2 separate regions of the Homo sapiens genome follow, and region 1 is reported to be linked to region 2. Evidence: microRNA targets listed by miRTarBase, many of them from high-throughput screens and not tested one by one. Region 2 holds a microRNA gene; the other region holds the end of a gene's coding sequence.

Region 1 (4,357 bases), not on the chromosome of region 2:
ATTCTCCTGCCTCAGCCTCCTGAGTAGCTGGGACTACAGTCGCATGCTGCCACGCCTGGCTAGTTTTTTTTTTTTTTTTTTAGACGGAGTCTCGCCTATCTGCCAGGCTGGAGTGCAGTGGTGCAATCTCGGCTCACTGCAACCTCCGCTTCCTGGGTTCAAGCAATTCTTCTGCCTCAGTCTCCCCAGTAACTGGGACTACAGGCGCATACCACCACACCCTGCTAATTTTTGTATTTTTAGTAGAGATGGGGTTTCACCATATTGGCCAGGCTGGTCTCAAACTCCTGACCTTGTGATCCACCCACCTTGGCCTCCCAAAGTGCTGGGACTACAGGCGTGAGCCACCGTGCCCAGCCCTAGTTTTTGTATTTTTAGTGGAGATGGGGTTTCACCATGTTGGCCAGGCTGGCTCAAATTCCAGACCTGTAGTGACTTGTCCACCTCAGCCTCCCAGAGTGTTAGGATTACAGGCATGAGCCACCGCACCTGGCCTCTCTTCCTAGCTTTTTTATATTACTAGACTTAATGCCAGAGTTCTTTGCCAGGTCACCTTCCAAACCACTGCCAATTACATTACTTCTGAATCTCATTTCTTTGCAGAAGTAAAAAATAAACTTGCAAGATGGTTGTATGGATTAAATGAGATAATATATGTAAAACATTTGGCACAAGTGTTAGTTCCTTTTCTCAACATAATTTTTTCTCTTTATAGGGAGTCTGAAGATACAGTATTGCTCGTCCTCAAAGAGATCTACCAAACCCAGGGTATCTTCCTTGATCAGCCTTTACAGTAAAAATGACCCATCTATGGCTGCTTAATGTAAGTTTTAAAATGTCATATATATAGTGTAATTCTTACATATTAACATGTTATAATGAACTATGGAGCCTCAAGCTCTTTTTAAATATACTAGCTGTTGCCTGTCACCAAGATCTAGGCTGCTATTCATTTTTAGAGGGACTGGTAGAAATTCATGGGGAAAAAAACACAGTAGCCCATTTAGAGGAAGATTAGTGTATGTCTGTTTTGCTAGAGATTTTGTCCAATGACACCTGTCATTTTTTAGGATCTAAACTCAGAGTTTTAATGGTTCTGTTATCTAAGAGTTACTGTGGCAACAGTTATGATTTTAATTACCAACCACCCATCCTGAGATTTAAATTACTCAGCCTTTTAGATGTGAAATTACAAAGTCTGTGTATTCGACTCTGGCATTCTCTGTGGTTGCCTTCCAGTTGTGACTGCAGCTCTTCTCCCACTTTCTTCCCTAGACGGACATTGAGGGATCCTTCCCCAGAAAATCCACCTGTTTGTTGCTGCAATTTTCCTCTCCTCAGCTGCGTCATTTCCTGCATGTTGCCTGCCACTTACTCACCACTGGGGTCTTTGGAAGATAATCTTCCTCTTTGGAAATGAATGGAAAAGCAAAAGGCCCTATTACTTTTAACCACTGGCTTCATATAAACACTTGCCATTTTTTTCTGCATAGCTGGGGGTGGTTTGTGTCTTTAATTCTTTGATGATAGTTTATAGTTGCCACACTTTATTGATTAGTACTTGACAGGGTGTAAAGCCTATTTTGGGTTTGATTTGTTTTGGGTGGGGTAGACATGTTTTTAAGGAACTTATTGCTTATCTTTAGAAAATGTTCTAGTTTGGAAACAGATTCTTGAGATTCAGAAGGCATTTTGGAGTACACTTATCTCTTGTTTGTGTTGAACTGAAGGCTAAGTCTCAGTGGACATGGAAAAGACTTTTGGGTGATTTATTTTTGAACCTGCATTTCTTTCTTATGTGTAGTGTATGAAGAAAGACTAGAATGTAGCTTTAAAAAAGTGTTGTTTACTCTCTTAGAACTGACAGACTTATTGCCAGAAATCACTGATGTTCATTGTTTTTGCAACTGTTTGAGCTGCTGTAAGAGTCTAAAGTTGACAAGTTAGTTCATGTTAGGTGCATCTTTATAAAGCAAAGATGTTGTATATCCTAGGCCTCCCTTTTATATTTGATAGAAGTTATTTGCTAATAGCTTCTATTCTTACGTTGAAAATAGTTGTAAAAGCTGATGAACCTGAAATTGTGTAGCCTCTACAGGCTGCTGAGGTTCTAAATAAAACCTTTTAGTGGTGCCTTTATGGTGAAACAGAATTTGTCACCTGCCATTTCTACTTGAGCTAAGGTAGTATTGTGTATCCTCTTTCCTTCTTAGGTATCCATAATCCACAAAGCATATTTAAAAGGCTCTTGGCACGGGCAGCATTGGTTGAGCAGGTAGGTTTGGCTAGGGGGAAATGTTTAACTTGTTCTGAAAGAAAAACTTATGTCTGTAGGGTCCAAGAAACAGCTATTCCAGAGTCAGTGTCAGCTGAGTCTGGAACATATGAAGTGAGGTTTACTTCTAAGAACACAAGTGACTGCACACTAATTTTGTCAAGGCATCTTTTCACTACTTTGCTGTAGATTTTTCTTCTTCATTGGTCAGTTTGTCATTGTCTTTGTAGTTCTCTTTATGATAATCCTTTATACTTGCTCTCAGATTCCACAGGCCTCTGTTTATAGAGTGGCAAAGGCAGGCGAGCTGTGGTTTATTGTTTATAAATTTTTTTATAAATGTTATGGTATTCAAAGCCACTGACATTTAATATTTACTGAAGCCATTCCTTAGACAGCAGTGGTCTTTATCCCTTTCTGGAAAGAAAAGGAAAATGAAGGGTAATTACTGTCACCATGGAGATTGTAGAGGTAAGGTTGGGGTATAGGTCAGGCCTGGCCTTTCTTTGTCATCTGCTTATAGTCTAGTGCTAAGTATGCCACTAAGTTTCAGATATATGGAATACTTTATTTTTTTAAAGGTATATAAACTCTGAGTTATTGAGAATTAAGTATTCACTGTATATTAAGGGGAAGCTTTTGCCAAGTTGTGGTCTTCAAATTTATGTTTACTCTTCCTATTGGCAGAATAGGTGCTATTTAAGAGTAAACCAAAGGATAAGCAGAGGGAGTCCCTATAACCAAAGATGGACAGCATAGCCCTGGATAGCCAGATAAACCACTCTTTGTATTAAGAAATGTTTCTTTCCTAGTGGTGAGGGGTGGGTAACTGTGAAAGAGCTTTATATCTTGTCTATTCATGGTATTATAGCTGTATATTCCCAGGATGATAAGCTTGATTGAAATCCTGTATTTAGTCATATATTATTTGCGCTGCTTCATTTGTATCATGTGCAATCTCTAGACCAACCCTATTTTTAAACTCTGGTACAGCATCATTTTGTACATATTCCCAGCTGCAGAACTAGTATCACTTATCTCAGCAAAAGAGATTGTTTGCATGGAAAGATTAATAGCACTGATTAGATTTCTAATATTTTGCATTTTTGAAATGTTTGTTTTCTACGTGATTATATTTAAAACTTTAGTAAATACTAACATGAAACCATATTGACTAGTGGCCTACTTTTACCTGGACTCACCCGTCTCAAAGTCAAGAAAATCAGTACAGTCACGATTTTCTCTGTCTTTATGTATTACTAAAACAAAAAAATAGGTTTTGGGCAAAGAACTAATATGTAAGTTCTTTCCTGTTGACTGGTATTTTAATTGTCATAGGCAGAATTTAAGTTCAGAATTTAAAGCATGGCAATTATAAGAGACTTTCCTTTGGTATTTATAAATATTAGCCAGTACTATAGATAACAGCAGTTGAATCACTTAGGGCGGATGGGGAATTCAATGTTTTGCTTTACTAAAGTTCCAGCCCCTTAATGTACTTTAAATATTTAAAAAAGCACACATTTACCATTTTATTTGAATATCAGGTTTACTGAAGGAAAAAGATACATTGAAAATATAGGAACATACACATAAAAGACAATGTCATATTTAAAGTATAATCACAATAAAGAGAAAGGGAGCTGTAGGTCCTATGGCATCCATTCTGATGACATCCCATAATTGTTCCTTATATTCCATTGTGAAGAAGGGGCAGAAAAAGATTCATCTGTCCTTCAGATGACGATACCTGTCATTTTTCTTTTCTACCTTAGTCACTTGGCAGTGTTGGTGCATTTGAGCAGATCTTCAGTCATGAATGGAAGGAAAGAAGCTCACAAGTACAGTTATGGTCAAATGAGGTAGAAACAGTCATCTGTTAGTAGTGCTGAAACCACACTCCTGACCATTTTCTTCTTTATTATTGTTTTCACTTAGTAATTCAACAAATTGTTTATGCCCACGGTGTTCAAAATGCACAGCAGTACCAGATGGCTGGACTCAGATAAGATGCACACAAAAGTGATAAATTACCCTAGATTCGACATTTTCCTATTTAAGGCTTGATGGAATTGTCATCAG
Region 2 (4,396 bases):
AAAAAGAAAAATCAGAGCCAGCAAGTGTGCTGGTTCCATCATATGTGTCCTCATGCTCCCTGCACCTCAGCCCTAGGAGGACTAGGGGATGAAGTTTTCCAGGTCATCACAGCTTCTGAATGCTAGTAAGTCTAGCAAGAAAGACCACTGATTTCTATCTCTGATTTTTGGAAATACAAATATAAAAACACACATACATATGAACAGACAAAGAGATAAGAACACCTACAACCTCCCATCAAGCTTGGCTATTTCACCTACTCCTGTTGATTTCCTAAGACACCTCAAGAGCCAGGTCCCATTACTCTATACTTACCCACAAGGAATGGAAAGGCAGGCTTTTTTTTTGTTTTTGTTTCTGTTTTTTGAGACGGAGTTTTGCTCTTGTCGCTCAGGCTGGAGTGCAGTGGCACGATCTCGGCTCACTGCCACCTCCGCCTCCCGGGTTCAAGCGATTCTCCTGCCTCAGCCTCCTGAGTAGCTGGGATTACAGGCGCCCGCCAGCACACCCAGCTAATTTTTTGTATTTTTAGTAGAGACGGGGTTTTGCCATATTGGGCAGGCTGGTCTCTTCACTCCTGACCTCATGCGATCCGCCTCGGCCTCCCAAAATGCTGTGATTACAGGCGTGAGAGCTACCACGCCCGGCAGGAAAGACAGGTTTTAAACAAATGAGCATCAAGAGGACAAAGACTCAGATACTGACATTTAATCAGCTGTTCACTTGTTTCACCTGTCAATTCCAAAATAAGAAAGCCTTTCTATTACAGATTCCATAGTATGCTCAATGACAACACAACACAGAAACACAAGTTGCTGAAGCCAAGACTCTCGTGACTCAAAATGTGTTTATTTTGCTAAAAACAGTGATCTGAGCAACCAGAGATTATAAAGAAGTTCCAATTACGTGAAGTTTCCAGATTCGAAAATCAAGACTACACCATTCAACTCATCAGTAGTCTTTGAGCTAAGAACATCTCACCAAAATCAATGGAAAGACTGCGAAAGATCTCCAGTAAGAAAGGACCAGGAAAGCAATGTCCATATCAGAAAAGGAATGGTTAACGTGAGTCAGACTGTAGTCAAGAAGCTTAAATGATTTCAGCCAACAACAAAGAATCCCACAAAGAAACCATACACTTCCTATAACCAATGTTCCCCAACCCCAGAACAGTTTCCCAAGGTCTTCTATAACAAGAGTTCCTCCTGACTGGTTTGAGTTCTTTCTACTCCAACAGATGATTCTGTTCTTCGTTCACTGAACAACTTAAGAGCTGTTCAACCCCCCAGGTTCCAAAACCTCTCGCAGCTGGGGATCCTTTTAAACATGCACATCACTCAGGAGCCCATGGGGATGAGAGGCATTCACAGAGCATCAGGGAAAATGGAAAGCAACATTTTGCTTAACAGGAGAAACCGCCCCTTATTCATCTTTCTCCCACATCACCTAACTCTAGGGAATGCTTAACGTGGCTTGAAGGAAATGAAGACAGCGACCTAAAAGCACACAGATGCAAGACTTCCAGGAAGAGGTTTTCCCATCCTGCTGGACTCCTGTAGTGTCAGTATTTGGGGCTCCCTCTAATGCTACATTTCTGCTGAGCCTGCAGACATACTTGGAACCCATCACCTTCGGGCTCCCAGACTCAGGCTCCGCACAGCCCGCGAGGGAAACGGTCATGGGCACGCACGGACACGTTTCCATCTTTGCATGTTTATCTACGTCGACTGTGAATTCAAGCAAGTGTGGCCCTCGTGGACAACCTACGAGCCTTAGGGACACAAAAGGCTTCCTGCGCAAACTGCACGGAATCTCCTGACAGGACTTCACGTTAATCATCATTCATAGGTGGGTTCTGGGGCTGGACCCCACGGAACTCCTCTTGGTTGTGTCTTGGACTTCTCACTGCCCCAAAGGAGCCTACTACTGTGGTTTTATGGTCTGAGGAACAGTTAGGCCTCGAAGGCCTGGCCTAGGGAGAGTGCACTCTGCATCCCGAGCTCCCGCCTTCCCCACTCGGCGGCCGGGACCGAGTTTCCCGCCCCACAGCCCGACCAGAGGTTGGTGGCAGTTGGAGGCAGTTGGGACCGGCCCCAGCAGGTTGGAACCGGTCTGGGCCGGGCCGGAGGAGGAAGGGGGGGAGGAAGAGGCCGCCTCGCGCTCTCCCTGCGCGCGTGACTCACGCTGGCCGCTGACGTCAGGCGTGCGCGCGCGGCGGGGGGGGGGGGGCTCTACGTACGTGTAGTGCTGCGGTTTCTCGGGCTGTGCCTGCAGCACCTGAGCGGTAGCGGCCGGGGGCGCCGAGGAAGCTGCGGAGCCGCCGGGCCCGGGGCCCTTCGACATGGTCTTGTCTTCCTGCCTCTTCGCCGCTCCCCTTTTATTATTCAGTCTGCGCGGTCCGCGCCGAGGACCCAGTGCGCCTGCGCCGCGCCACGAGAACGTGAAGACCCCCCACACGGCAGCAGGGGTTGCTGGGAGTTGTGGTTCTATGTCCGGCTGGAATTTTACCGTCGGCAGAGGGTTGCTGGCAAAGCACAGGACCACAATACCCAGGGATCCTTGCTGCTAGTGTCCCGGATGCTGAGGGCCTGCGACGGCTTCTGGGAATTGCAGTCCGGTCGCATTTCTCCTTCTTACCAGCGCGTTTTCAGTTTCATAGGGAAGCCTTTCCATGAAACTGGAGCGCCTGGAGGAGAAGGGGCCCAGAGCTAGGGAGGCCCTAGCGATTTCTGCGAAAGAGTTCCAAGTATAATTTCACTGCCAACAGTGTCATAACTACTTTGCCTTTATACTTAGTACAGCTAGGTTCGGTTCTAATGCCAGCTCAGAGCAGTGCTCCAAGCAGGGCTTAAGAATCTGTGTTGTCGGTTCTTAGTTCTGGGCCCTGTGCTGCAGGCACCTGCAATCCGCCAGCAACCCCTTCATCCCTGCGGCGGGTCTAACCTAAGAGGCATTGAGAAAGCTTTGCTAAGGAGGAGGTACACCGCACGCTACAGTTCCCGCGCCTTTGCCGAGGCGCTTCATTTACCTTTGCCAAACTCGACACCTGGAACTCCACGACTTGTGTGCTTTCTCAGCCTGACACCTGGCCTGACCAACTTGTTTCCAGTACATTAAGGGCCAAGGACGAATTTAATCTCCGCCTAGAATAGTCTCTGAGGTACACTGACAAGTTGCCAGTGTTGAGAAGCATCACAGGGTCCAGAGGAAAGGCCTGGGTTTGAGTAGGGCGTGCCCGTATTTATCCACTCTAGTTTTCTTGTCTGGACGTCAGCCTTTTTACTTGGGACATTATCTTTCCCCTCTCTGCTTCCCACCAGTCAAGCAAAGTTCTTCACTTTATAAAATAAGCCAGATGCCCCAGACCTAGGCATTTGTTTCTGTGAGTTTTAGAATGTTCTCCGTAGATATTTTAACCGTTGTCATTTAATTTGGTTTTTCATATTGAATCTATTTCAAATCCACTGGTTTTGATTTATATTTTCTTAGATGGGATTATATTAACAAATGATTATCTCATTAAAGAAACACATTCCAAATAACCTTAGGGATGAAGGGTGGTGGGGCTAATGGAAAATCGTTAATGTTTGAGTGACACATACTTATTTTATTTAGCTCCAAGTTCCCTCACATCAGAAGCCACATCACAGAGTTGAGAAACTGGTTTTTCCTAAACAGGCTAAATCGTTTAGCCACTAGGGGCGTTTGAAAATGAAAAATTACAAAAGGACAAATAAAAGTTGTAGTATATTGCTTTAATCCTATGATTAAACGCAAGTTACTTGGTTTATGTTAGCCTCACAATACTCAAGTGTGATCTGACTGAAGAAATAGAGTTCACAGCACTGGATTTTAAATAATAGATGTATATCATGAGCTTCAGAATAAGTGTGTACTGGTGGAGTTGGGAGATGATATCATCCAAACTGCTTAATTTACAAAAGAGGAAACCGAAACCCAGAGAAGCTAAGTAACTTGCACAAAGTTACTCAGCAAGTTGGTAACAAGAGGAACTAGGACAGTAGCCTACAAGACTACATCACATTCACTGTTGGGTTTTGTTTGTTTTGTTTTCTTCTGCTTTTTTTCATTGTATAAACATTTTTTATTCTTCCTCATTTCCTGTGTTGCTTTTCCTCCGTTGTACCAATCTGGAAAAAGTGAAACATACCTGCATGACTACGAAGTAAGAGAGACAGCCTTTTTTTTTTTTTTTTTTTTTTTTTTTTGAGGCAGAGTCTTGCTCTGTTGCCCAGGCTGGAGTGCAGTGGTGTGATTTCGGCTCACTGCAACCTCTGCCTCCCAGGTTCAAGCAATTCTCCTGCCTCAGCCTCCTGAGTAGCTGGGATTACAGGTGTGTGCCACCACGCCCACCTGATTTTTGTAGTTTTAGTA

The links. The annotated mature microRNA hsa-miR-4738-3p reads UGAAACUGGAGCGCCUGGAGGA and lies in region 2 at 2,674-2,695, shown strand. An mRNA with a match to its seed (bases 2 to 7 or 8) in the 3' UTR can be bound and repressed. Matches are read on the target gene's strand: a 7mer-m8 pairs with bases 2 to 8, a 7mer-A1 pairs with bases 2 to 7 and ends in A, and an 8mer does both.
Region 1: miRTarBase lists DDHD2 as a target of hsa-miR-4738-3p. Seed matches in the 3' UTR shown: 7mer-A1 at 2,821-2,827.

Annotation. Positions count from the first base shown.
Region 1 is chr8:38,259,325-38,263,681 of GRCh38, forward strand. It overlaps DDHD2 (DDHD domain containing 2), which reads left to right. Exons shown (of 18, transcript NM_015214.3): 17 at 716-823; 18 at 1,276-3,512. The coding sequence ends at 797. It overlaps PLPP5 (phospholipid phosphatase 5), which reads right to left. Exons shown (of 7, transcript NM_001102559.2): 7 at 3,806-4,357. Among named protein-coding and RNA genes, the nearest start is that of PLPP5, 7.7 kb to the right of the region's middle.
Region 2 is chr17:75,782,829-75,787,224 of GRCh38, reverse strand. MIR4738 (microRNA 4738) reads left to right here and starts at 2,618; the gene lies at 2,618-2,704. It overlaps UNK (unk zinc finger), which reads right to left and starts at 2,419. Exons shown (of 16, transcript NM_001080419.3): 1 at 2,241-2,419. The coding sequence starts at 2,344. RefSeq lists enhancers at 1,169-1,746, 1,758-2,157, 1,747-2,325, 3,888-4,067 and a silencer at 2,218-2,357.